Homo sapiens: one gene and its partner. The protein of the gene in region 2 interacts with the protein of the main gene of each other region in a pairwise test. Each region holds a gene or a part of one and is shown on either strand. Other genes may lie near its edges.

Region 1 (3,500 bases), on a different chromosome or scaffold from region 2:
GACTCAAATAAACTTAAAGTAAAAGGGTGGAAAAAGGTACTTCATGCAAATGGACACCAAAAGCAAGCAGGGGTAGCTATTCTTATATCAGATAAAACAAACTTTAAAGCATTATCAGTTAAAAGAGACAAAGAGGGACAGTATATAACGGTAAAAGGCCTTGTCCGACAGAAAAATTTCACAATCCTAAACATACATGCTGCTAACACTGGAGGTCCCAAATTTATAAAACAATTACTAATAGACCTAAGAAATGAGATAGAAAGCAACACAATAATAGTGGGGGACTTCAATACTCCACTGACAGCACTAGACAGGCCATCATGACAGAAAGTCAATGAAGAAACAATGGATTTAAACTACCTTGGAACAAACGGACTTAACAGAAATGAAACAGGAGATATTACAACTGACAGAACATTTCATCCAACAACTGCAGAATACACATTCTATACAACAGCACATGGAACTTTCTCTAAGATAGACCATATGCTAGACCATAAAATGAGACTTGATAAATTTAAGAAAATTGAAATTATATCAAGCACTCTGTCAGACCACAGTAGAATAAAACTGGAAATCAACTCCAAAAGGAATCTTCAAAACCATTCAAATACATGGAAATTAAATAACCTGCTTCTGAAAGCATTGAGTCAAAAACAAAATCAAGAAGGAAATTTAAAAATTCTTCAAACTGAATGACAATAATGACACAACTTATCAAAACCTCTGGTATATAGCAAAGGCAGTGTTAAGAGGAAAGTTCATAGCCCTAAACACCTACATCAAAAAGTCTGAAAGAGCACAAACAGAAAATCTAAGGTCACACCTCAAGGAACTAGAGAATCAAGAACAAACCAAATCCTAACCCGCAGAAGAAAGGAAATAACCAAGATCAGAGCAGAACTAAATGAAATTGAAACCAAAAAAACCCATGAAAGATAAATGAAATAAAAAGCTGTTTCTTTGAAAAGATAAATAAAATTAATAGACCATTAGCAAGATTAACCAAGGAAAGAAGAGAGAAAATCCAAATAACCTCACTAAGAAACGAAACAGGAGATATTACAACTGACACCACCAAAATACAAAAGATCATTCAAGGCTGCTAGGAACACCTTTACACACATAAACTAGAAAACCTAGAGGAGAAGGATAAATTCCTGGAAAAATACAACCCTCCTAGCTTAAATCAGGAAGAATTAGATACACTAAACAGATCAATAACAAGCTGCAAGATTGAAATGGTAATTTAAAAATTACCAACAAAAAAAGTCCAAGAACGGATGGATTCGCACCAGAATTCTACCAGACATTCAAAGAAGAATTGGTACCAATCCTTTTGACATTATTCCACAAGATAGAGAATGAAGGAACCCTCCCTAATTCATTCTATGAAGCCAGCATCACCCTAATATCAAAACCAGGAAAGGACGTAACCAAAAAAGAAAACTACAGACTGATGTCTTTGATGAACATAGATGCTAAAATCCTTAACAAAATACTAGCTAACTGAATCCAACAATGTATCAAAAAGATAACCCACCATGATCAAGTGAGTTTCATACCAGAGATGCAAGGATGGTTTAACATATGCAAGTCAATAAATGTGATACACCACATAAACAGAATTTAAAACAAAAATCACATGATCATTTCAATAGATGCAGAAAAAACATTTGAAAAAATCCAGCATTGCTTTATTGTCAAAACTCTCAGCAAAATCGGCATACAAGGGACATATCTTAATGTAATAAAAGCCATCTATGACAAACCCACAGCCAACGTAATACTGAATGGCGAAAAGTTGAAAGCATTCCCTCTGAGAACTGAAACAAGACAAGGATGCCCACTCTCACCACTCCTCTTCACCATAGTACTGGAAGTCCTAGCCAGAGCAATCAGACAAGAGAAAGAAATAAAGGGCATCCAAATCAGTAAAGAGGAAGTCAAACTGTCACTGTTTGCTGACGATATGATCGTTTAACTTGAAAACTCTAAGGACTCTTCCAGAAAGCTCCTAGAACTGATAAAAGAATTCAGCAAAAGTTTCTGGATACAAGATTAATGTACACAAATCAGTAGCTTTTCTATACACCAACAGCGACCAAGCAGAGAATCAAATCAAGAGCTCAACCCCTTTCATGATAGCTGCAAAAAATAATAATAGTAATAATAAAATACTTAGGAATATACATAACAAAGGAGTTGAAAGACCTCTACAAGGAAAACTATAAAACACTGCTGAAAGAAATCACAGATGACACAAACAAACGGAAACACATCTCATGCTCATGGATGGGTAGAATCAATGTTGTGAAAATAACCATATTGCCAAAAGCAATCTACAAATTCAATGCAATCCCCATCAGAATACCACCATCATTCTTCACAGAATTAGAAAAAAAAATTCTAAAATTCATATGGAACAAAAAAGAGCCCACATAACCAAAGCAAGACTAAGCAAAAAGAACAAATCTGGAGGCATCACACTACCTGATTTCAAACTATACTATAAGGCCATAGTCACCAAAACAGCATGATACTGGTATAAAAATAGGCACATAGACCAACGGAACAGAATAGAGAACCCAGAAATAAACCCAAATACTTACAGCCAACTGATCTTTGACAAAGCAAACAAAAACATAATGTGGGGAAAGGACATCCTTTTGAATAAATGGTGCTGGGATAATTGGCTACCCACATGTAGGGGATTGAAACTGGATCCTCATCTCTCACCTTATACAAAAACCAACTCAAGATGGATTAAGGACTTAAACTTAAGACCTGAAATTACAAAAATTCTAGAAGATAACATTGGCAAAACCCTTCTAGACATTGGCTTAGGCAAGGATTTCATGACCAAGAACCCAAGAGCAAATGCAATGAAAGCAAAGATAAATAGCTGGGACCTAATTAAACTACAGAGCTTTTGCACAGCAAAAGGAACAGACAGCAGAGTAAACAGATAACCCACAGAGTGGGAGAAAATCTTCGCAATCTGTACATCTGACAAAGGTCTAATATTCAGAATCTACAAGGAAGTCAAACAAATCAGTAAGAAAAAAACAAACAATCCCATCAAAAAGTGGGCCAAGGACATGAATAGACAATTCTCAAAAGAAGATATACAAATGGCCAACAAACATGAAAAAATGCTCAACATCACTAATGATCAGGGAAATGGAAATTAAAACCACATTGTGAAACCACCTTACTCCTGCAAGAATGGCCATAATCAAAAAATCAAAAAAAAAATAGATGTTGGTGTGGATGTGGTGAACAGGAAACACTTCTACCCTTCTGGTGGGAATGTAAACTAGTACATCCACTATGGAAAACAGTGTGGAGTTTCCTTAAAGAACTAAAAGTAGAACTACCATTTGATCCAGCAATCACACTACTCAGTATCAATCCAGAGGAAAAGAAGTCATTATTCAAAAAAGATACTTGCACACACATGTTTATAGCAGCACAATTCACAATTGTGAAATTGT
Region 2 (3,500 bases):
TATAATTCTATTTCCCTGGAGTATAGGGTATATGAAGAGTATAAGGATGGTATGGGGTTAGAATGAGGGATTATGGAAGGCCTTGATTGTAGACTGAGCAAGTAAGATATGTGGTAGGCATTTGTGAGAAATTACAGCTTTTTGAACATGACTGTGGGGATGGAAGATTACTCTGAATTAGGAGGATAATTTTAACCAGGGTATTGGAAGGATTGAAATGAGAAGAGAGCAAAGACAGACATGTTAGCAAAATGTAACCTAAGCATTAGTTGATGAGAACCTTGACTTTATAGCAGTGGTAATGTAAAAGTGACAGAGTCAAGACATTGAAACACTGATGCCTGGTTTTGGTGAGCTGCTGGAGAGGAAGAAGAGGGAACAATAAAAGAAAACTGACTTTTGAGGCGAGGTAACTAACAAAGGTGTTACCATTGCCAAAACTGAGGAGGAGAAATAGTGAAGGGATTAAAATGTAGTAAGTTACTCTGTGCTTTGTAGACATGGTAATGAAACTCTGACAACAACCCTATAGATGTTACCCCAATTTTATATATGAGAAAACCAAGGCTGAAAGTTAGAATTTGCCAAAAATCATACTGTTAAGTAACCAGATGTGCAGGACTCGTCAGGGAATTTTGAGTGTCTTCTGTCCAAATGTGGTGTTATATTAGAGTATTGATGCTGTTTGCATCATTTTAACTGTCTTTAAAAGCCTATCTAGTAAGAAGTGAATTCTTAGGTGTACCCTATATCTAAGGAGTCTTGTTTGTGGGTCATTCATTCGTTTGTGCAAACAAACACATGGAGAGTTCTGAGGGTAGACCCTGGGCTGGCATCCAGCACTGCCACTAATTAGCTCTATGACCTTGGGCAGGTTTAACTTCTGTAGGACAGTTTTCTCATATGTAAAAGGAGGATGATGGTAGTACTTACCCATTTCATAGGATATTATAAAAATTAAATTATTCAATACATTAGCATGCCTAGTATTTGCTAGTGAAATGAACAAGTATCTTCTGAGTGACTGCTTTGTCCTAGGCATCATGTGAGAGCCTAGGAATATAGTAATAAGCAAGATAAGCAGCAAGACTTACATTCAGTTGAGGAGGTAGATGATTTCTGGCCTCTTTTTATCACAAGAGTGCATATTAAAGTTAAAATAGCCATCATCCATCTGTAACCAGTATTAGAGTATCTAGTTGAAGGATCTATTTAGAACCGCAGTGTCCATTTTGGTTGCCGTTATCCATGAGACTATTCAAATTCTAATTACAATTAAGTGTATTTATAAATTCAGTTTCTCATTTTCTCATTCATGTTAGCTATATTTCTAGTGCTCAATAGCCAGATATGGCTAGTGGCTGCCACACTGGACAGCACAGACAGAGAGCGTTTCTAACATCACAAAAAGGTCTATTGGACAGTGCTAATCTAAAAGAAAATTGGGTCTCTAACAAGAAATATTGATAACAAGTTCTTAAATTGGAGCCACCTATGTATTTTTTGTGCATGTTCTTTAACTTAAATAAGACTGTATACTTTGATCATAGGCATGTGTAAAAATGTTATTACCCTTGAAGGAATTTTCATGTGTACATTTTTTTACATTTAGAATATTGTTCATTGCTAGGTAGGCAGTAGTATTTATGACAAAAACAGAAGAATTTCTTCAAAGAATTAATGAGACCCAGTTGGCCCTGCTGCTGGTCCATAATGCTATATTTATTTTCCCAAAATGCACAAGTCTAATTTTGTCATTTTATTGCTTGGCAAATAAAATACAAACTCCCAGGCTTAACATTCCGGGCCTCCCATGATCTGGGGTCTGCTGGTTTTTCCATCTAGACTCCTTAGCATTCCCCACATACAGCCAATCCCTTACCACCTCTATGTCTTTGCTTTTTCCATCTTAGAAGGTCTCAAAATAAACCCTGGCCCCAGATGCCTGATGTTTCTCAAATGCCACCTTTTTAAAATGAAATTTTCCCTGATTAGCTTAGCAAAAGTAATCTCTTCCTCAACTTGAATAGCTTTTTGTTAAATCATGTCTTTGAAGCTCATCACATCACTCCTTTACAGCATAAATGTTTGTAAACATGTAATTTTTTTCTTCGAAATTGCAAAATCTCTGAGGGTAGGAAATAATTTGCTTCTTTAATAGGACCCCTATGGTAGAAACTTAAAAGTCTAAGGTCTTTAAAAGCCATTTAGTGATGGCTGACTTAAAGCAGATGATATTAGTAGATAATAATTGAGTACTCACTGTGTGCCAGGCACTGTGCTTAGAGGTACGTGTGCATTTACACCCTCGTTTGGTAGAACCTTCATATTTAGTTGTGGAAACTAAAATTTAGAGTGCTCTGTGCCTTACTCAGGTTTACGCAGTTGCTGAATAGTTGAACTTACACTCAAACAGGACCAGTCTTTGACTCCAGAGCCTGTAGACTTAACGATACACCTTTTGCAACTTAGACCCTGAGAAATTCTGACTTAGTGAGTGTCCGTGATTCTGAGAAACCTTGAATGTTAGAGATTGGTTTGAGGATACCTCATTTATGTGAAACCTCATCGTAATAAAATAGTTTGAATTGAAATTGAAGTAGAAATACTTATTTTCTTTCTGAAGTCTTTTCTTTGACTACATGAATGCTTTAAAAAGGTCTATTGGCCGGGTGTGGTGGCTCACGCCTGTAATCCGAGCACTTATGGGAGGCCGAGGCGGGCGGATCATGAGGTCAGGAGATCGAGACCATCCTGGTTAACATGGTGAAACCCCCTCTCTACTAAAAATACAAAAATTAGCTGGGCATGGTGGCGTGTGCCTGTAATCCCAGTTACTTGGGAGGCTGAGACAGGAGAATCGCTTGAACCAGGGAGTCGGAGGTTGCAGAGAGCCAAGATCATGCTACCGCACTCCAGCCTGGCGACCAAGCAAGACTCCGTCTCAAAAAAGAAAAAAAAAAAAAGATCTGTTGGAATGTGGTGGTGAAAAGTAATTTTGTTTTTGTAAGCTAGTACACAAAATTAATTTTTGTTTGCTCATTTACTTAACAGGACATCTGGAGGACCTGTTGATGCTAGTTCAGAGTATCAGCAAGAGCTGGAGAGGGAGCTTTTTAAGCTCAAGCAAATGTTTGGTAATGCAGACATGAATACATTTCCCACCTTCAAATTTGAAGGTACGTCTTATAAATCACAGATTCATTCTTGTGGGGGATAAGTGAAGAATATTTACACTTACCTGGATTTTTAGAGAACTGAATGACAGTGTTGACATGTGAATTTATTAGGACCATGACGTGTGCCTGAGAAGCTGCCGGCTAAATGTTTGCTGTTAGAATAAGAGCAGTATAGGAGATCACATAACATAGTGATTAAATGGTGGGGATCTGAAATCGAACTGCCCAATCTTGAATCCTTATAATCACTTTCAGCTGTGTAATCTTGAGTAATTAACTGGTGCATGTCTCCTCATCTGACATTTGGGGAGAATTATAGTA

What was found. Proteins that work in one complex are often made in the same cells at the same time.
Region 1: the proteins of ATP5PF (region 2) and MALL interact in binary tests that used the Homo sapiens proteins (3 or more experiments, as listed by UniProt).

Annotation. Positions count from the first base shown.
Region 1 is NC_000002.12:110,109,323-110,112,822, forward strand, and holds part of MALL (MAL-like protein), read right to left. Parts: intron 1-3,500.
Region 2 is NC_000021.9:25,724,905-25,728,404, reverse strand, and holds part of ATP5PF (ATP synthase peripheral stalk subunit F6, mitochondrial isoform a precursor), read left to right. Parts: intron 1-3,054; coding exon 3,055-3,179; intron 3,180-3,500. UniProt on the Homo sapiens protein: Subunit F6, of the mitochondrial membrane ATP synthase complex (F(1)F(0) ATP synthase or Complex V) that produces ATP from ADP in the presence of a proton gradient across the membrane which is generated by electron transport complexes of the respiratory chain.